Linked DNA regions of Homo sapiens. The protein of the gene in region 6 purifies or fractionates together with the protein of the main gene of each other region. This does not show direct contact. Each region holds a gene or a part of one and is shown on either strand. Other genes may lie near its edges.

Region 1 (3,500 bases), on a different chromosome or scaffold from region 6:
TGTCTATGAAGATAAGCAGGCGTCCACAGAATGAATTAGGCTTAAAAAAAAAAGTAATAATAAAGCTGTAATCATAAAGTATTTTATGGTCTCAAAGGATTCTCACATGCTTTGGGTCTTACAAAAACTCTGAGTCAGGTAGTGCTGCTAGTTTCCCTTCCGATTATTCTTTCACAGGATAAGAAACTTGAGTCACATTTAGTGACTCTTTCAGTCAACTTGACTGGAACTCAGATTTCTTGAGTGATAATTACACTTACTTCACTAGTGACTGTCAAAGGGTACCCTGCAGAAGAATCCTGTGGCCACTATGTGTTAGGTAGGGAGCTGGGTAGGGTAAGGGAGGGTGCAAAGGAAGGGCATGAATAGTGAGGATGACTGGGGAGTGGGTATGGCCCTGGCCCTTCCTGCTCCCAAATTAGAGCTCTGCCTTTATTCATTTTATATATTGGGCATCCATTGCATCACACCATGGTTCTACTGCTTTCAGGAGAGAAATGCTTATCTGCATTAATTGATAAAATGATTACTATGACTGTGGTTTGAAAAAAGAAATCAACTAGCATTAAATATTACATATTTAATGTTAACATTTACGTAAAACAAAAAATTACCTCAAAATAAAAGATTTCATTAAACTGCGGATTGCTTGTTTTCTTCTTTACTTTTGTCTTCTTTTGGTCATTCCTGTTCCAATGTGGTAGAGTTTTACCTTGTAGAACTTAACAGTACACAATTATAAAACATGCTATTTCCAACCAGGGAGCCTGACCTCCATTTAAAAGTTAAGGTGACTCAGGGAAGATTCAGTTTTAAATATTGCTTGGAAAAAAGTAACTGTCCTTATAAACTCAAATCAAAGAATATATAAGCTTTAGGCATCCCCTATGTGCCAAGATTGTATTATTCTCTCTACGGACACACTAGATTGCCAACCTTTTTCAGGGGTTTTAAAAACACATTCTATTCTATAAGCAACTCAGAATAAATAGAAGGAAGACAATAAGATTTAGAGCACCTTCATCTATGTTGAAAAATACCCAAGGAACTTGAAAAACATTCTTAACTCAGCTTACTTCTTGGGCTTCAGGTATAATAGAGACTTCTTAAAAAAATCTTTTAATTTAATTATAGATTCAGAGGAGGTCACAAAAAACGCATAAGGAAATCTTGTGTTTTTACCCAGCCTCTCCCAGTGTTAACATCTTACACAACTACAGTACAATAGCAAAACCAACAGTGACTTTTTATTTTTTAGTTTTTTGAGATGGAGTTTTGCTCGTTGCCCAGGCTGGATGGAGTGCAATGGCACAATCTCGGTTCACCATAACCTTCGCCTCAGGGTTCAAGCGATTCTCCTGCCTCAGCCTCCCGAGTAGCTGGGATTACAGGCATGAGCCACCACACCCAGCTAATTCTGTATTTTTAGTAGAGACGGGGTTTCTCCTTGTTGGTCAGGCTGATCTCGAACTCCTGACCTCAGGTAATCCACCCGCCTCGGCCTCCCAAAGTGCTGGGATTACAGGCGTGAGCCACCTGCGCCTGGCCAGACTTTTTAAAACACAAATTCATATGCCAAATTGTCTCTAACTGTATGTTACCAAATAATTTGTCAGGTAGAGATTATTAAAAAAAACAAAAATAGCTCCACTAGATTGAACATTTTTAACACACAAAAATAAATCTCTCTAATAGCATTTAATGTCATACGACTGAGTATCTGCTAATAGCATACTATTGTTTGAGCACCTAATAAATACCGGCATGGTACTAGGTACTTTACATACATACATAAATACATTTTTCAAAGTGACTTAGTAGTGATTTTCTACAAAGTAAGAATAACTAGAGATTCTGGGGATGGGGAAAAGGGGTGTGTATGTATGCATGTATGTGTGTGTAGAGGGAATACTGTGTTTCTTGCTTCCTGATTCTAAACCTTCAAGTTGTAGACATATTTCAGATGTGTCAGTTCCTTAAAGAAATCATAATGAAGTCATATAACACACCGTATTACAAAGTGCTATAGGTTTTTTCACAAATTATTATAAATCATTTAAATCAATGATATGGTACACTTTGCCATGCTCTAGTACTTCAGCAGTTTTTCTACAGTTGGAATTCTCTCTGTAGAGGACAGATTTCATGAGTAGAAAAGGCAATTTTCAGTCCTGAGCTGCCTTCCAGATAAAAATATATAAATTGTCTTGTTATTCTGAACTGGCATTCATTAAAACAGGATTTTACATGCATAAAATTCAGGATATTTGAAAAGTAGGAATGCTGATGCATGAAAAGTCAAGTTTATGTTTTAAAGTACTACATTGTACTAGTATAAAACTGAAGTTGTTCCTTAAAGCCTAAGAGCATGGCAGATTTAAAATGGGGTACCAATTTCTGTCTGTAAAAAGAGGGCTTTGTTATTGACAAGTGTATAATAGAACTCACTAAAGATTTTTCTTTCAAAGCATTTATTACTGTGTGTTATAAATAGCTATTTATCATTTGCTCGTAGAATCTTACTTTTTAAATTTTTAAATCAAACATCAAAACTTTAAAACCTAATAATAATTCAATAAATATTACCTAGAAGGGCCCACTAGAGAAACTGTTGCATAAGGGTCACAGCTTTGGCCATTTATGAGAGGCAACCCATGGCATGCCTTGATGCTAAGGTAGAATAAAAGAGATTTAACATATTAGATTCCAGTTAAACAAGATAAAACATTATCTTTAAACACAAACTAATACATTCAAAAGGTTAAGAATTGTTTTCCATGTGTCTGCAGTTGTATGGCTATATACTACCTATATGGAATAGGTAGTAATATGTATGGACATATGTATGTATGCATTTTTAAATTTATGCTGTATTTTCAAAATGAGACTAAACAGGAATGCCACAATCACTAATGAAACTATCAAACACAGACTGAGCATTCCAAATTCAAAAATCCAAAGTCCTCCAAAATTCAAAACTTTCTGAGCACTGACATGATGCTCCAAGGAAATGCTCACTGCAGCATTTCAAATTTGGGCTTTTTGGATTTGGGATGCTTAATGGGCAAGTATATATAATGCAAATACTCAAAAAAAAAATAAGAATAAGAAATTCAAAACAGTCTCAAGCACTGTAGATAAGGGATGTGTAACAGTCAACACATTTCCTTCTGCTAAATACCCAACAAGGTACATTTTGCGGTTTGATAATACATCAAAACTGCTGTGGCCTCTAAAAAGGAAAAGAAAGTGGTGCAAACCCTAAATGAGAAGCTACAAACCAAGCCAGCTCTATGGCATCATATCCTCTGCTAAAGCATGAATGACAAACAAGGAAACAACTGCAGCTTCCACTTAAAAATCTGATTCATAAATATAGGGCAAGCTTCACACAATTCTGCAGCCTTTTATTCCAATTCTCAGTAAACAGCTCCTCAGTAAGCACCATTCTGTAGAAAATGTTTTAGACCATAAAAACCAAGGTCATCTAATCTACTCCA
Region 2 (3,500 bases), on a different chromosome or scaffold from region 6:
TCACTGACCTCTGATAGGAATATGGAGAAGCGTTTGGAATAAAGAGGATCATACTGATCAGCCAGATGAAGGATGAAGGCAAAGTCATTCTTGACATCAGGGATGTCACTGTAGTTGCTTTTTTCTCTTAACGCCTCAAAGGAATATTGCTTCAGGGAACTCCTCAGCATCCACCACAGGCTGTAGGAAGAGGTCAGACCATAAAGTATAACCAAAATGACATAAAATGAAGCCAGGACCTTAAAGATTTCTGCCAAGGAATAGACACACTGGTAGCGCTTATATCCTGTAAAAGCCTGCACATCAACTGAACAGTCGATTTCAAGAGTGATGTGGGTTAAAAAATATGGAACATAAGTTATGATGAGCACAAACAAAATGACTTTGACTATTATCTGTTTCAGATATACTCTATAAATGATGTCCTTCTGCTCCACATGCATGCGGAATCTTTTCACTTTTTCAAAGATGGCTTTGGCCTGTTCACCCTCCTTCTTGTCCAGGACACTGGAAGTTGGGCTTTCTATGCCAGCTGACTCCAAACCTGGCTGTGGGTAGGGCAATGACTGTTTGCCGGAATCTATGTCAGCTGAACACCCTGAGGACGAAAGCAAAATCTTGGACTTGGAGAGTTTCAGAGGCCTCACTGACTGCTCAGCCACTGTTTCTGAAAGGGCGCGGGTGGTCCATGGAGAATCGAAGCACTTGTGAAGGATGGCCACAAAATGCTCGAGCCTGGAACTGGTACTGGGGTAGTGAAGCCAAAAGTTGCTGCAGGCTGCAAAGATGAGCGTGTGCAAGAGCACCAGATAGGGGAAAAACTTTGCAAACCAATGGAGCTGTTTCTCGTAACAGACGGCATCAATATAGGAGTACTGCTGTCGGTGGAGGTCATTCTGAATTCGGAGGGGGAGCGGAAGCGGTGTCCCAGGATTAGAGGATGTGTTCATGCTGGCTTTCAGGATGTCCCAAGGCACGGCACAGTGATTGTCAAATTCCACTTTGCATGGAAGACAGCACAGAACCCTGCTCTGCGTCAGCTGGAGAGCTCCGGCCAGCACGGCCACCAGCAGCATGATCAGTGTGATGTAATACCAGAAGACGTCCCACCATGGTTTTAAGATGTGATAAGATGACTGGGCATCTGCTAAGCATTTTAGCTCAGTTAGTGTAATCATGACTTTCCCTTGTAGGAGGACAGAAACTGGAAGAGGGAAATAAAAGAAACACTACTGAAGCAAGTACTCAAATAAGCATTTTACTCTAATATTCATACACACATGCCCTCCTTCCCAAGTAGGATTTAGCTCTGGGGTAAAACCTAAAAGGAAGAGCTGATTAAGGGGCACATAAGTCTTCTGGTTTCATTTGAAACTATAGGCCATCCAACTCTGAACCATAGTCTCTTAGATGGGGGACCATTTAGTGATACTGACTAGAAAGAAATTTAGGGGTAGCCCTTGAGGTAATTATCTCGTTACCTCTTGTATCTCAACTCCAGGCTAGGCTACTAAAAACCAGGAGCCAATTTTTCTTCAACTGACATTTGAAAAACTTGTTCCTATGCTACTAATATTTTTTTCTTTCTTTCTTTCTTTTTTTCTTCCTTTTTTTTTTGAGACAGGGTCTCACAGGCCTCAGACTCTTGGCCTCAAGTGATCCTCCCTGCTTGGCCTCTGAAAGTGCTGGAATTACAGCTATGAGTCACCACAGCCAGCCACCTAATTTCCAGTGGTCACATTTTACCTTCCAAAATGTCTGAGTAAGCTCCTTTCCACACCTTGTCCCATGTCTGAAGCATCACTTACAGCCCAAGAGTTGTTTTAGTCACCACAAGGAGCCTCTTTTAAGCAAGCTCTGCTTTGTGAAATTACCCCTTAGGCTTAGTGGGGTCTACAATTCTATGCCCAGAACAACCTGTCACTGAATGCATTATCTCCTTTCCACACAAGCTTTCGCTTTGTAATTTAAGTACATGAGTATGAAAAAACTTAGAGTATTTAAAAGTTGGGAAGTATTTAAAAGTTATGGCTTAAAAAAGAATAAGAAAGAAAAGCTCTGCTAGAATATTCTATCATGGGGACTCCCTCTCATGTTTAATGTTGTGATGGCAAAGTACTAAAAGGATAAACGATGGAGGCATATTCCATTATTAAATTACTTTTGCCTTCAGGAAAACAAGATTATCTTGTATTTTCATACTGAAAAGTATTCAGACAACATTCCTGAGAATTTCTATGTTGAGTCTTACATACATCAATTGTTTCAAAAATTGCTAATCAGTAAAATCCAGATGATCTATAAGATGGCACAGAGTAAAGTAAAAGGAAATATGTGGGTCTTAGAAAATATCTGATAAGAAAAAGAAGAAAAATAATAATGGTAGCATGGTGCCCCCTTGCTGGTAGTCCAGCTCTAATCTATTTTCAAGGGTTTCTCTTGGATTTTCTTGAGTCTGAAGTCTTATCATTTATTCTGGGCCAGAGTTACTCTCTAGACACTCTAGTATTAGTAGCATCCCCAAGGAAGCCTTTTTTTTTTTTTTTTTTTTTTTTGAGACGGAGTCTAGTGGCGTGATCTCAGCTCACTGAAACCTCCACCTCCTGGGTCCAAACAATCCTCCCGCCTCAGCCTCCCGAGCAGCTGGGACTACAGGCACATGGCATCACGCCCAGCTAATTTTTGTGTCTTTTTAGTAGAGACAGGAGATGGGGTTTCACCATGTTGGCCAGGCTGGTCTCGAACTCCTGACCTCATGATCTGCCCACCTTGGCCTCTCAAAGAGCTGAGATTATAGGCCTGAGCCACTGTGCCTGGCCAGGAAGACTTTTTTACTCTCATTTGCCCTCTTTCTGGGGTCTGGTATCCTGCCTTGAACCTTAGAGTCCCATTACAGAGTCCCTGCTCCCTGTTAATAAGTCTCATCCTCAGCATATTCCTGACCATCTGACCCTGAACCCTACAGCTTCATGCTCTTGTACCTGTTAAGGCATTTTACAATTTCTGAGCTTAACTGCTGGACTGGAGCACTACTTTCTGCTTGTGTCCTCTCTGGGTATCACATAATATTATATGGATTCACCTTCCTCCTAGGACCTACAGGTGGATTATATAGCTCTTCAGGGCTTCTCTCCTTCACTCCAGTTTAGTGGATCTATTTCTAACTCTCAACTCTTCTCATTCTGCCTCACCTCTCTGCCTTACATAATTGTGTGTCGAGGTAAGACAGAAACTAAAATGAGAGGAATACATGAAGCAAAGAGAAAGTCCTGGGCTTAGACCTCAAAATACTATAAATATGATGTGGCCAGGGGTGTGAGGGATGGTAGAAAACACTGCTGGATGAAAGAAAGAACATGTGAAAAACAGTTTAGGATTTTAGTTGACATGTATGCATACTTTCAGCTAGTCATGAGACAGCTGTTACGCTGAAATACTGATTATAACATCTGGCCATATTAATAGGTAAACCCAGATAAAGGAGCTGCAGTCCTTCTGTA
Region 3 (3,500 bases), on a different chromosome or scaffold from region 6:
GGAGAGAGAGAGAGAGACAGGGAGAGACGGAGAGAGAGGCAGAGACAGACGGAGAGAGAGGCAGAGACAGACGGAGAGAGAGATAGAGACGGAGAGAGAGAGATGGAGAGAGACAGAGACAGACGGAGAGAGATGGAGAGAGAGATCGAGACGGAGAGAGAGAGAGAGAGACAGAGAGATAGAGACAGGGAGAGAGAGACGGAGAGAGAGAGACAGAGAAAGAGAGAAAAAGAGAGAGACAGAGATAGGGAGAGAGACAGGGAGAGAGACAGAGAGATGGAGAGAGAGACAGACGGAGAGAAAGAGACGGGGAGAGAGAGATGGAGTTAGGGAGAGAGACAGAGAGGGAGAGAGACAGAGAGATGGAGAGAGAGAGAGAGAGCCAGAGACAGACGGACGGAGAGAGAGAGGGGGAGAGAGAGAGAGAGACAGAGATAGGGAGAGAGACAGGGAGAGGGACAAAGAGGGAGAGAGACAAAGAGATGGAGAGAGAGAGAGACAGATGGAGGGGGGGAGAGAGCCAGAGACGGAGAGAGAGAGAGAGAGACAGAGATAGGGAGAGAGACAGAGGGACAAAGAGAGGGAGAGAGACAGAGAGATGAGAGAGAGACAAATAGAGGGAGAGAGAGAGAGACAGAGATACGGAGAGAGACAGGGAGAGAGACAAAGGGGGAGAGACAGAGAGATGGAGAGAGAGAGGGAAACAGAGAGAGGGAGAGAGGGAAACAGAGAGAGGGAGAGAGACAGACACAGGTGGAGATAGAGCCAGGACTGTGGCTGGACTTCCCTGCGGACCCTCAGGGGGCCGGGGCATGGTGTCCCCACGAGGCCATTGTGCCCGAGGAAAACGGTCACCCTGCTTCTCTCTCCCGCAGATGACCCGGACGTCAGGTACACTGCAGTGAGCAGCTTCATCTTCCTGAGGTTCTTTGCGCCCGCCATTCTCTCCCCCAACCTCTTCCAGCTCACGCCGCACCACACGGTGAGTGACCGGCTGAGGGACCGAGGCTTTCTGAGCTGTCCTGCGACGCCGGCCTGGGTTGGGGCATCTGCGTGGCTGTAGGGGGCCGACCGTGTGGAGTGTGGAATGCGTGGGGAGTGTGTGAGGAATCAGGAGTGAGTGGGGAGTGTGTGTGGAATGAGGAGTGAGTGGGGAGTGTGTGTGGAATGGGGAGTGTTTGTGGAATGAGGAGTGTGTGGAGTGCGTGGACTGCGTGGGGAGTGTGGAAGGCATGTGGAATGGGGAGTGTGTGTGGAATGAGGAGTGAGTGGGGAGTGTGTGTGGAATGGGGAGTGTTTGTGGAATGAGGAGTGTGTGGAGTGCGTGGACTGCGTGGGGAGTGTGGAAGGCATGTGGAATGGGGAGTGTGTGTGGAATGAGTGAGTGGGGAGTGTGTGTGGAATGGGGAGTGTGTGTGGAATGAGGAGTGTGTGGAGTGCGTGGACAGTGTGTGGGGAGTGTGGAAGGCGTGTGGAATGGGGAGTGTGTGTGGAATGAGGAGTGAGTGGGGAGTGTGCGTGGAATGAGGAGTGTGTGTGGAATGGGGAGTGTGTGTGGAATGCATGGGGAGTGTGCATGGAATGAGGAGTGTGTGTGGAATGCGTGGGGAGTGTGTGTAATGAGTGAGTGGGGAGTGCGTTTGGAATGGGGAGTGTGTGTGGACGGTGCATGGGGAGTGGGGAGTGTGGAAGACGTGTGGAATGGGGAGTGTGTGTGGAGTGTGTGGACGGTGCACGGGGAGTGTGGAAGGTGTGTGGAATGGGGAGTGCGTGTGGAGTGTGTGTGGAGTGTGTGGACGGTGCGTGGGGAGTGCTGGTGGATGCGCTGGGTCCTGGAACGTCCTCGTTGCAGGTGGTTCACCGACCTATTTAAGCTGTGTACGTTCTGGGGGAGTCGAGACAGTGTCACAAAAGCAGTGGACGGTTTGTCCAGGGTTTTAGCTGCTGGTCACCGCCCTGCTCTCCTCCCCTGCCCATCACATATGGAGTATTGATGATCGGCGTATCATCCGTGTATTGAGTCAACAGATTCCTATTTAGCACTGATTTTCTCCAGGCCCCAATGTGGTTGCTGGGGCCGCAGCTCTCAGGGTACAGGGATCTGGGGTGACCGTGTTGCACGTGCGGGTGGCAGAGCTGGAAGGAGATGGCCAGGGCGAGAGGACGTGAGGGATTGCCCATTCCCCAGCACTTCTTTTTTTTTGAGACAGAGTCTTGCTCTGTCACCAGGCTGGCGTGCAGTGGTACCATCTCAGCTCACTGCAACCTCTGCCTCCTGGGTTCAAGCAATTCTCGTGCGTCAGCCTCCCTAGTAGCTTGGATTACAGACGTGCGCCACCACGCCCAGCTAATTTTGTATTTTTATTAGAGATGGGGTTTTACCATGTTGGCCAGGCTGGTCTCGAACTCCTGACCTCAAGTGATCTACCTGCCTCGGCCTCCCGAAGTGCTGGGATTACAGGCGTGAGCCACCAAGCCCGGCCCCCAGCACTTCTGAGTTGAACCTTCAAACCCTGTGAAGGCTGAGATGAGCCCCAGGCAGGGCCAGGAGACTCAGCACCCCGAGACTCAGCGCCCCAGAGCCATGACCCCACCTGATGCTTTCGACTTTGAGATGCACCCTGCACGCTGGGCCGAGAGAGTGGGTCACCGCGGTGCCGTCGGATGTTGCCTGCGGGATGGTCTCAGCAGCTCCTGAGACTGTGGGACGCCCACCCCCTCCAGTCCCATCTGCGTCGCTACCCCTGTTTCTCCGTAGCTCATGCACAAGCCACAGCAGCTCTGAGGTGACTCCTGCATTTCGTCCCCTCGATCTGGGACAGTCACAGCATTTCTGTGATGCTGACATAGACCTTTCTTGCTCCCGCCTCCCCAGGACCCCCAGACGTCCAGGACGCTGACATTGATCTCCAAGACCGTTCAGACCCTCGGCAGCCTGTCCAAGTCCAAATCTGTGAGTCCCTCTTCTTCATTTTCTCTTTTTAGGGACAACTGATTCTTTTCTCTCTTCAGAAAATACACGTGAAAAACCTCCCACATTTGAGAGAGTCGTAAGATAAAGATCAAGAATCAAAGCCGGCACCACATCCTCTCTTGAAACCCAGGACCTGAGCGTCCCCGTCCCGCTCACCTCTCCCCTCCTAAAGTGAACCCCTTGCCTTTTTCGGGAGCCTGTGGCTCGTCGCCGGCCCCGTGGCAGGAGCAGCATCTGACCTGTCAGGTGTGGGAAGCGGCTGAACAGGCCAGGCAGATGGCCTAACCTGGCGCCTCCTGGGCGTTGCGGTGCTGGAGGCTCCTCGTCACGCAGCCCCCTACTCCCCTCGCGGCCCCCTCCTCCCCACGCGGCCCCCTCCTCCCCACCTCCCCACGCGGCCCCCTCCTCCTCACATGGCCCCCTCCTCCCCATGCTGCACTACCTCCCCATGCAGCCCCCTCCTCCCCACTTCCCTCCCCACGCAGCCGCCTCCTCCCCACGTGGCGCTTCCTCCCCAAGCGGCCGC
Region 4 (3,500 bases), 1.0 Mb from region 6:
TCTGTGACTCAGTGCAGGGAGCATGCTGCTTTCGCGGAGACCGTTTCAAACACTTTTTTGAGCTCTTTCAATTGTATTCAACCATCAACCATTAATGAGTCTTCAGGCCACATCAGTGGCAGAGTCAGAGCCTTAGCCTGTCAGCAGGCCCCCAACAAACACATCGTGTTCAGACCTCCTCCTCTCAAGCGCTTGTCTTTGAATGGTCTCCAGTTGGGACTGGTGCAGTTTGGGAATTGCCCCATTTGGTAGGGGTCTCTCTCATGATTTCAGAGTCTTTGAGTTTGGCAGAGCCATGCATGCATTTGAAGTGAACGTTTCGTTTTTTCATTTGTTGACCTACATGCCAAGCACCAGGCTAGTTCCCTGGGATACAAAGATGGAGAAGGTGTAGGGCGGACCCCTGATGTTCAGAATTTTCATCCTCTCTCTTTAGAGTCCAAATTCTCATCACACCCAGACTTTTATCTGTTCTGCTCTAGATCATCAGAGGAATGGAATTTTTTGCTATTTCAAATCAAAGTGACAAAAGATAATGAAGATTTTCCAAGCTGCATTTGGATTGCCTTCTTTTTAAAAAATTAATTATTTGGCTTGGCAATAAAAACTGTATATACTTACCATATGCAAATGATGTTTTGAAATTTGTGTACATTGTGGAATGGCAAAGTCAAGCTAATATATTAACATGCATTACCTCAAATTTTTTTTTTGTGGTGAGAACACTTAAATCTTAGCTGTTTTTCAAGAATACAATACATTGTTATTAACTATAACCAGTATGTTGTACAATATATCTCTTGAACTTACTCCTTCTAACTGAGATGTTGTATCCTTTGGCCAGCATCTCCCCAACCCTCCCCTGCCTCACTTCTTACGAGTTAAATCCTTAGTGGTTAATGAAGGAGCAAATGGTTGTGAACTAATGGAACTAAATATAGATTCAGAAAGACACAGGGAAATGGATGAAAGTTGTGAGGATTCCGCCGTGATGCCATCCGCATTCTTGCTTCCCCCAGCAAAGGCAGGAGAGCTGCACCCCTTCCTCCTGGCATGGAGGTGGCGCAGAAGGCAAGGGACACTTGGGTGCTGCCTTGAAAACCCTTGGAGCTGGGGGAGCCCTGTTCCTCAGGAAAAAGGCTGAGTATCTCTTTGTTTTCTGCCCCCTAGGCCAGCTCTTCAGCTACATAAACAATATATTTGCCGGCAAATAACCAATTTTATTTCTTTTTAAATTATTTTAAAAATTTTAGTTACAAATCAGTTATGTCAAATGACTTGCCATATACATGAACTTTCACATTCCAAAGCTATGTATAAAATAGTCTGTTAGGTTTTCAGTCAAGTGCATATTTAATATTTTGCCTGCCTCCAGTGTAAGTAAAGCAGTGTTGAGATGCATAGCTGAACAGTCAAATGAAGAGGGTGTATTTAAAGAGTATTAATTTGATGCTGAACTGTCCAGAGTGCCCATTGGCTGGCACAGCTACATTTTTCTCTGGTGACATTCCCAATCTAAAAATCACTTAAGTGAGAAGAGAAATTCGATTGTAGCTGTAGACAAGAATAATGCGGAAAAAGTTTCTTGGCAGTACTATTTTGGACCTGCACTATAGTGGATGCCGAGGTAATCTATCAGTTTGTGAGTGTCTACAAAATGCAACTCTCTAGATAACAGGTTTAAAGTAAAGATTTAATACAGTCTCCATCTCCTATGATGTTGCAGTGACAGTTTAAAACTCATTCTCTAAATCTCAGCAGACTTTATAGCTAGCAGTGGGCCAATATAAAGTTTAATAGCATTACAACACATAAATCATCTTTTAAAGATGCTACTAGTAGCTCCAATATTAAATGCAGACAATCGCCCATGTTATAAATAATTTATCAAACACCATTTCAGATTTGCCTTCCATGCTGAGTTATTTATTTCAGCCTTTTCTGTATGATTCCTAAGGCACTTTTTGAAAGATCCATTACTGGTCAGTTTAATGAACTTGGGGGTCTGTTTTGTCCCCTCAAGCACTCGGGTACAGCTGTGGTGACCATTACGTGGCCGACGTGGACCTCTTTGTGCCTTTTACAAGTGCTGCCCATTTGTCATGTAGCGGTAAATGGAACTGCACATTGGAGTCCAGGGACACATTGTGCGATGCGGTGATGGAGACAAACAGATAGCTCTATAAAGTGCTGCTTGTCACAGCTGACTTGTAGTACAGTACATCACTCTTATTGTAATCTCATTTAAGAAGCAGGGGTGGCCCGGGGGACTGATATTCCCAGTTAGTTTGGTCTTTGTAGCCATAAAGCAAGAAGTGTTCCTTTTATATTTTCTGAACTTTAGGGAGTATGCTTTTTGCTTGGATTAATTATTATAGGAACTTCTCTGTGGCACTGTGTGAAGATTTGTCAGCAGGTTTCTTTGGCCCTCCTTGTCCTGGCCTGGGGTTTGGTATAGGCAGTTGCTGCTTAGAGATAAGTTGTGTTTTTAGGAGCCCTCTGGCTTGCTTTACTAAATAACTTACCATTTATTAAGCAGTAGCTATGTGCCAGAAACTATAGCAGGTGCTTTCTGTACCTTTATTTCTAATTTGTTAGTAATCTTATGAAGTTGGATTTATTATCATTATATTACAGAGCGGGAGAGTAAACTCAGAGAGGTGTAGTGACTTGTCCAGGGTTGCCCAGCAGTAAGTAGTAGACTGGGGATTCAAACCCATTCTGTCTGCCTCCATGTCTCCTTGAACCTGGGTTCCCCAGCTGGTGTTTAATCGTCAGGGTCATGGTGATCTTTTAGCTGAGCGTCTGAAAGCAAAAGGAAGCTGCTGTTGGCCTGGAGGGCCATTTTTTGGTAACGAGGGTAAGGCCTACTCGCCCATCGCCACACTGAGGTTCCCTTGTGACCTGCAACATAAATGCATAGGCAGCTGGCTGGGGGCAGATGCCTCCCTGGCTGTGGGAGAGAGCATCGCACCTGGGCCTGACCACCTGGGGTCATGGGCTCTGCAGAGCCCTTATCAAGGCCCCTCTGTAGCAGCTGTCCCCGGGCAGATGCTGCCCAGGCCCTAGGTCACTCTGCATCTTCCAGAAAAGGGAGGTGCAGTTTCCCTACGAAGAACTAATCCTAAAGGAAGAGACAGTGCTTCTTGCGCTTATTGTGGGCTGGAGACAGATACAAATGTGGTGTTTTCCCCACCTCTTGCCTTTAGTTTGTGGTTTTTCTTGATAGTTTTCTTAAATATTTGGTAGCACATGTTAAAGACAAAAGTTGTTTAATTGTGAAATTCCACTATAAAGAAAACACAGTATGAATATGCCCAGTAGCATATTTGCATACGTGTCTAGAATTCTGTGTATGGAAATACTGTAGTCAGAGACAGTATTCAGCATTGAAGCAGTTCCTGGAACATAGTAGGTCCCTATAGGTGTGTGTTAAAGACATTAACTGTGTAAGTAGTGGGTGGACAGTAGAGCCTTTGGTCATTTCCACGCTGTTTTGA
Region 5 (4,056 bases), on a different chromosome or scaffold from region 6:
GGCCTTTCTAAGAGGTCTTGGGCAGGTCAACAATGAATTCACAGGGAGAAATAAGTGTGCGAACGGATCTGTTCTGGGACAGGCCCTGCCTGTCATATTATCTCATTTAAAATCAGAAAAATGTACAAACCTGGAGCCACTGGAGCAGAGAGAAAGGAAAGAAAATCTCTACCGGAGTGGAAGGGCATCCTGGAAGCCTTCCCAGGAGAGGTGACGCGTGGCCCACGCCTCAAAGGACAACAATCAGAATATCAAACACTTTCTGGACGTGTATTAGGTACTTGTCACTGTCCTGAGACTTTTATCTTCATTAACTCTTTTAATTCTTTCAAAATCCTGTGACTGAAATGCAATGTCATCCTCACTCAACAGATGAGAAAACCAAACCAAAGCACAGAGAGGTTGAATGGCTTACCCAAGTCCAGACAGCTACCAAATGGCAGAGCCAGGATTCGAACCCCTGGAAGGCAAATCAGTTACTGACTGTGAGACCTCTGCCAAGTTATTTAATCCCTCTGAACCTCAGTTTCTTTATCCATAAACTGCGGATAATGGGGTAACAGTGGAGTAGTGTGTAGTGCACATCTGGAGACAAAAATGAGCTAATCCCAGTAAAGCGCTTAGAACAGTGCCTGGCACCCATGAAGTGTTCAAACAACTGTAGATGACTTTTTATCATCGCTGTAGTGGTTATCTTCAAGCCTTCCCCTCCCCCATCTGGCCGCGGCTTCCTCCCCCGCAGTGCCAGCCCGTGACGTTAGAGCAGAGTCTGGGTTCTGTGTTTAACTGGAAACTAGAACGAGATGGAAGGGGATGTTCAAGGCCCCTCCCTTGACTCTGAACGGACCCCCAGGGAACATGCGACCCTCTCTCTGGCGACGCCTCCCACCCACCACTAATACTTGCTCCTGGACCGGGGGGCGCGGAGGTTGGAGAGAGGAGGCAGGTGTCTGCATGGTAGGCAAGGAGGGGTGGGGGCGGAGAGGTGTGAATATGTTGGATGAGGGACAGGCGGGGGCACAGACCATGTCTTTTAAGCCCAATGCCAACTCACCAGGAGCCAGCGGCCACGCCCATCAGGACGGGGGCCCCTCCCCACCTGGCGGTGCACCCTTGTCTCCGCCGCCCGTGCGCTCTGGCGCGCATGACTGGGGTGCCGGTAGAGGGCGCGCGAGGGGGCCCGGGGTCAGGTGGGGGACCCCATTGGAGGCGGGATTGTGGGGAGGTCCCTGGGCCGCCCCTCCCGCCCCCTGCCCGCCCAGCCTGCTTGTCTGGAGCTCCAGACGCCTCGGCAAGAGCCCGCTGCGCCCCCTGCGCGCTCCTCCTGCTCGGAGCACGGCTCCTACCTGTAGAGTCCGGACGGGCGCTCCCTCCCCGGGCACCTACACCTTCTCCTCTTTCGGAAATCTCCCATCCAGCTACCCGGGTCTCGGACAGGCGGCACTGGGACCACGAGGCAGGGAGCCAGGCTTGAAGCAGGTGACATGTAGACGTCCCCTGGTCCAGCCTCGGAACCTGAGCGCCCTTCTGCCTGGAAAGTTTGTGGCTAGGCGCCATGGCCAAGAGCAGCTCCCTGAATGTTCGCGTGGTGGAGGGCCGCGCGCTGCCTGCCAAGGACGTGTGAGTACTCCTCGGGCGCTTCTGGGTGAGGGGCGCGCAAGGCCTGGGGTGGGGCCGACGTCGCCCTTTCCGCGTGCCAGGGCGGGTTGGCAGGAGGGCGAGGGGTTCTTGTCCAAGACTGGTCTTGGGGCAGTTCCGCTTTAAAGGGGCGAGAGGCCGCATGCCCATGGCTGTCCCGGTGGGAGGGGGGCGCCTAGAGTTAGCAGATGCCCCGCCTCACCCCCGGGCAGGGGAGGGGGTGTCTTTGTTCCCGGGATGTACTAAAGGGGGTCGTCCAGAGCTGAAGAGGGGATTAGAGGGCCATATTCTGTCAGATCTGGGAGGGGAGAAAGCGGGGGGTCTCTTCCTTAGTCCAGGCAGATGTTGGAGGTGGCTCCTCCAGGCGTGGGTGGGGGCCTAGCAAGGGAACCCTGGGGAGGACCCTTGGAGAGGGCCTGGGATCAGATGAGCCCTAACATCCTGTGTGGATCTGGTGCTTAGGTTTGCAGAGTGTCACCAGGTGGCCCTCCAGGGTCCTTTTGACCCCAAGCCCTGAGCTCCCCAGTCTTGTGGCTCCCAGCCTCGTGTGGGCCTTCCCCGGGTGCTGAGCTGCTTGAAGAGCCAATTCCTTGCTGCGACCCCCTCCCCAGCCAGGTGCAATGGGACTGGGGGACCCTACGGCTCCCTTCACTACTAGTCCCAAGCTATGCTTCCCCCAGGGCTGAGTCAGCAGCTGCTGAATCAGCAGAATATGGGGGGCGGGTTCCCCCTCCTGCTTGGCATAGTGCCCAGAAGGGGCTCTGAGGGCCTTAGCACCTGCGACAGGTGTGGGATCCTCTGGAGGACATTTGTTGTGTGACCTTGAACCTGCTTCTCTCTGGGCCTTGGTTTCCCATTTGGGCAATGAGAGCTCTGGACCGGAGTCCCCATCTGGTTGCCTGGGGTCTCCCATCCAGCTGGGAGGGTGGAGGACCTGTTAGGAGTTCCCCTGTGGCCCAGGTGAGCAGGAGCATGGATTGGGAGCCTTCACCTGTGTCAAGATTCAGTCTTAGCTCTGTGCTGATTCCCCAAGGTGTGGGCTCCCAGAGAGGACTTTCCTGCCTGATTTTATGACATTCCCAACCCCCAAAACACTGCAGCTGCGTCAAGGGGGCAGCTGTTGAGAGCAATTTTTGCCACCCTTCATCCTCATTGGCTACTCCAAATATACACACCCTGAATGAGAAGCAGAGTGTGTGCTCTGACAGTTCAGTGGCTGGACAAGCCCCCCCACCAGACTCTTTCTAAGATGTCCCCTCAGAGGCCCTGGGAATGAGACGGCCTACACTGTTAGGGCATTGAGGCCAGGCTGGATGCCTGGCAGCTGCTAGGTGGTGAAAGGAGTTCTTTCCAGAAACGGGGTTCTCACTCACTGAGCTCTGGCCCCTCCACCAGCCCTGGGTGAGAGGTCATGAGGGGGCGATGGGTGTCACCCCTGCACCTGGACACTGGCTTACGGTAACCTGCTGCTCTTCTGGAGAAGGGACTTGAGTCATGCCTGGTTCCTGCAGCTCTTGGCCAAACTTCCTGCCCCCAATTCCTGGGCCAGTGAGCTATGAAATAGGTCATGCCCTAGAGCAAGGGTGGGGAGGAGTCACTTAGCCCCAGCTGGCAGGGGGGGTTCTGGCCACCCTGCCTCAGTTTCCCTAGCTGTCAGCACCCTTCTTCAAAGGGGCTCTTCCTGGAGGCTGCTGGGAGCTCCATGCCATGGGAGCCCTTAGGTGGGGTGTGTTCTTTCCCTCTTCTCCTAAGGGAAAGGGCCCAGATTCTGCCTAAAGCATTGCCAGGTTTGAGGGGGGTCCATTCTGGCCCGGGAGGAGGCCTCTTCAGGTAATTTTAGAGTTTTTACTATTAGAAATAGTAGCAGTCAGTCACTGAGGGCTTAGTATGGACAGGCCCTGTGCTTAACACTTCATATAGTTCTATTGGCGTCTCTTATTTTACAAATGGGGAAACTGAGGACCAGAGAGGCAGTCACTTGCCTAAGGTCACCCAGCTGCGATTTGAACTCTGACTACTCCATGCCCAAACCAGACTGGGCAGGCAATGGCTGAGGGGCCTGCTTTCCCAAGACTGAGCTGAGTCAGGGGCCGTGGGAGAGGCCACAAGTCTGGAGAGATCAGGGGTCTGGAAGCAGCCACCCCCTCTTGCCACCGTTGCCCTCCCTGATAGGAGTCTGATAAGGCCCTCATGCGTCAGAGCCCTGCAGCTGACTAGTGCTGAGCTCGGCTCCCAGGAGGGCCTGGAGGTCAGGCTGGGTCTGCAGGAGGGGGTGTGTCTCCCAGCCCTCGGCTAGTGGGATCCCAGCCCATCTGACCCCACATCTGTAGTTGGGGAAACTGAGGGGTGGGAGCCTGCATAAAGGAAGCTTAGGGGTGGAGAACCCAGGGAAGGAAACTGAGACACAGGACATTACCA
Region 6 (2,441 bases):
AATGCCAAAGTAGTCCTTGCTCCTGACAGATTTTCAGAGGAAACCTTAGCTGCCCCTGCAACAGCTGTGCTGTGCTCCTCCGCCAGCTATGGAGTCATGAGCACCCGAACCCATTTCACAGGTGTCACAGATGTCAAATCTCTGGGGGGTCTACCCTCAGCCCCGGCTCCAACACAGCACAGCCCTATCTCCTGCCTCCAGTGTAGCCCTTCACCCCAATCCCACCACCTTCTCTTCCACAGAAAAGAGCCCCGATGCAATGTCCACATCTTCATATTTATTTCCACAGTGTTAACATGGAATAGACTTAGCAACCATTGCAGAGAAAAAAAAAATCTCTCATTGGTTTATGAGTTAAATCCTGTAACAATGAATTTCAACCATTCGAAGTCTTCTGCTGCTTAACATTTACTGAATCAAAGGCTGAAGTAAATGGACTCTCATCTAGGTCTCAGAAATCACACAGCTGGCCTCGTGATGTATTTACGATGGGATTTAACTTCTAATACAAGGCAAGTTTGACAGTTACAGCCAATGAAGTGCACGACTCTGTACATGGATTTCTTGACCTAACATTCAAAAGGACATTTCATAGTACTAGTTTAATTCTGATCTCTCTCTAGAAGGCAGAAACCACATCCCACACTCCTATGCAATTTGTTATTTTGGTATTGTAAAGTAAATGAATAAGAAGGGGTGGAGGCATAAAGAAAATCTAGTTTCTGGCTGGGCAGGGTGGTTCACGCTTGTAATCCCGCACTTTGGGAGGCCAAGGCGGGTGGATCACGAGGTCAGGAGATTGAGGATCATCCTGGCCAACATGGTGAAACCCCGTTTCTACTAAAAATACAAAAATTAGCCGGGCTTGGTGACATGCGCCTGTAGTCCTAGCTACTCGCGAGGCTGAGGCAGGGGAATCACTTGAACTGGGAGGTGGAGGTTGCAGTGAGCCAAGATCGCACCATTGCACTCCAGCCTGGGCAACAGGGTGAGACTCTGTCTCAAAAAAATAAAATAAAATAAAATAAAAACAAAGAAAAAAAAATAAAATCTTTAGGCATTCCCAGACACAAAGATCTCAGAGACAGACAACAGAGAGCCTCCGTGTTCATCTGCCCGAGGCTGTTTGTCACAGTTCCCTTAAAAGATGCCTGGAAATGCTCCCAACAACAAGGGACTCAAGTATGGGGCTGAGTTTGTTAAAAAAGCAGCTAAATGTGTTTAGGAAACACACGAAGTGAAACCAGACAGTGATGGCCCATGTACAAGACTTGTGCTTGAAGCTTTGGTGTGCCTCCATGGCCAATTTTTCAGGCACCAAAACCCATTCCTGATTAATTATTGATATACAATGCAAACCAAACTATGAAAACACAGACTTTTTTTCAGAAGAGGGAAATAAAGGCACAGAAACCTGCCAAAATAGATATTTTTTTCCATAAGAATAGTATGGTTGATTAAAATAGTTTATCACTAGTAAAACTTGTATCACTAGAGCAGACAATACAAATTAGTTTTTTAAAAAATGACATTCACTGAATTCTTGGTCTGTGCATTCAATGTGAATAATCATCAAAAATATATTACAATTAAAGGTTTGTAAGGAGCTCTGTCTGGGATTTCTGCAGTATATTATTTCGGAGGAGAAGAACCACCATAAAGTATGAGCTATCCACTGTTCCTTTTTATGTCATGTATGGTAATCAGTCTATCTCCTAATGCAGGCTCACAAACTTCCACGGTGAGATGTCTAAGTGACTTAGTGACCTTCACACTCATTAAAGGCAGCCCTGTCCATCAAACTCCATACCTAGAAAGTTCAATAAACTGTATTACATTTTAATAAATATTTCTGTGTACTTTTTGTTTTTTGCTTTTAAGCTCAGCTTAAATTTTGTCAAGGAAACCATTTCACAAGACAGTATGTCACAGCCTACTATCAGCAATAGTCCTTGTTTATTAGAATCTGCAGATGTCCATATTACATCAAATATAAATATATATTATATTTACATTTCCTTCTTAGCTTTCAATTTAGGTGAGTGTATTTATAGATAATGCCACTAACGCACCACTATTCTAATCCTCAGTGCAACTCATACCTTCTTTCCATTAGATGCTCATTAATGTAAGACAGCATCTTAAAAGAGGGGTACTGTTCTTTTTTAAAATAAAAGGAAAGAAAGGGAATCCAAGAATGGAGGTCTAGACATTTCCTAAGAGATTTTTGTTTTGTTTTTTATACTTAGAAATACTTGAAAAATGTGGTCCCTTTTTGTAGTACTAGTCTCTACTTGGGGACAAGAAAATAGAATATGCAACTCAGAAAGGAAAGAGCCCAAAGACGAGAGAACCTGCTTGTTAGCTCATTAACCTGTTTAGTAAAGATCTGCTTTAAAATGCCTGATGCTGTGCAGTATCATACAAAACAATCTTCAGCC

What was found.
Region 1: the proteins of GAPVD1 (region 6) and RASA2 fractionate together in Homo sapiens (co-fractionation; one large-scale study listed by BioGRID). This does not show direct contact.
Region 2: the proteins of GAPVD1 (region 6) and LRRC8B fractionate together in Homo sapiens (co-fractionation; one large-scale study listed by BioGRID). This does not show direct contact.
Region 3: the proteins of GAPVD1 (region 6) and RASA3 fractionate together in Homo sapiens (co-fractionation; one large-scale study listed by BioGRID). This does not show direct contact.
Region 4: the proteins of GAPVD1 (region 6) and PSMB7 fractionate together in Homo sapiens (co-fractionation; one large-scale study listed by BioGRID). This does not show direct contact.
Region 5: the proteins of GAPVD1 (region 6) and RASAL1 fractionate together in Homo sapiens (co-fractionation; one large-scale study listed by BioGRID). This does not show direct contact.

The regions. Positions count from the first base shown.
Region 1 is NC_000003.12:141,553,027-141,556,526, reverse strand, and holds part of RASA2 (ras GTPase-activating protein 2), read right to left. Parts: intron 2,671-3,500; coding exon 2,587-2,670; intron 688-2,586; coding exon 615-687; intron 1-614. UniProt on the Homo sapiens protein: Inhibitory regulator of the Ras-cyclic AMP pathway. Binds inositol tetrakisphosphate (IP4).
Region 2 is NC_000001.11:89,580,329-89,583,828, reverse strand, and holds part of LRRC8B (volume-regulated anion channel subunit LRRC8B), read right to left. Parts: intron 1,205-3,500; 5' UTR 1,179-1,204; coding exon 1-1,178. UniProt on the Homo sapiens protein: Non-essential component of the volume-regulated anion channel (VRAC, also named VSOAC channel), an anion channel required to maintain a constant cell volume in response to extracellular or intracellular osmotic changes.
Region 3 is NC_000013.11:114,010,624-114,014,123, reverse strand, and holds part of RASA3 (ras GTPase-activating protein 3), read left to right. Parts: intron 1-875; coding exon 876-982; intron 983-2,875; coding exon 2,876-2,953; intron 2,954-3,012; coding exon of another isoform or gene 3,013-3,054; exon of another isoform or gene 3,055-3,469; intron 3,470-3,500.
Region 4 is NC_000009.12:124,359,943-124,363,442, reverse strand, and holds part of PSMB7 (proteasome subunit beta type-7 precursor), read left to right. Parts: intron 1-3,500. UniProt on the Homo sapiens protein: Component of the 20S core proteasome complex involved in the proteolytic degradation of most intracellular proteins. This complex plays numerous essential roles within the cell by associating with different regulatory particles.
Region 5 is NC_000012.12:113,132,962-113,137,017, reverse strand, and holds the start of RASAL1 (rasGAP-activating-like protein 1), read left to right. Parts: upstream 1-1,256; 5' UTR 1,257-1,555; coding exon 1,556-1,620; intron 1,621-4,056. UniProt on the Homo sapiens protein: Probable inhibitory regulator of the Ras-cyclic AMP pathway. Plays a role in dendrite formation by melanocytes.
Region 6 is NC_000009.12:125,362,826-125,365,266, reverse strand, and holds part of GAPVD1 (GTPase-activating protein and VPS9 domain-containing protein 1), read right to left. Parts: 3' UTR 1-2,441. UniProt on the Homo sapiens protein: Acts both as a GTPase-activating protein (GAP) and a guanine nucleotide exchange factor (GEF), and participates in various processes such as endocytosis, insulin receptor internalization or LC2A4/GLUT4 trafficking.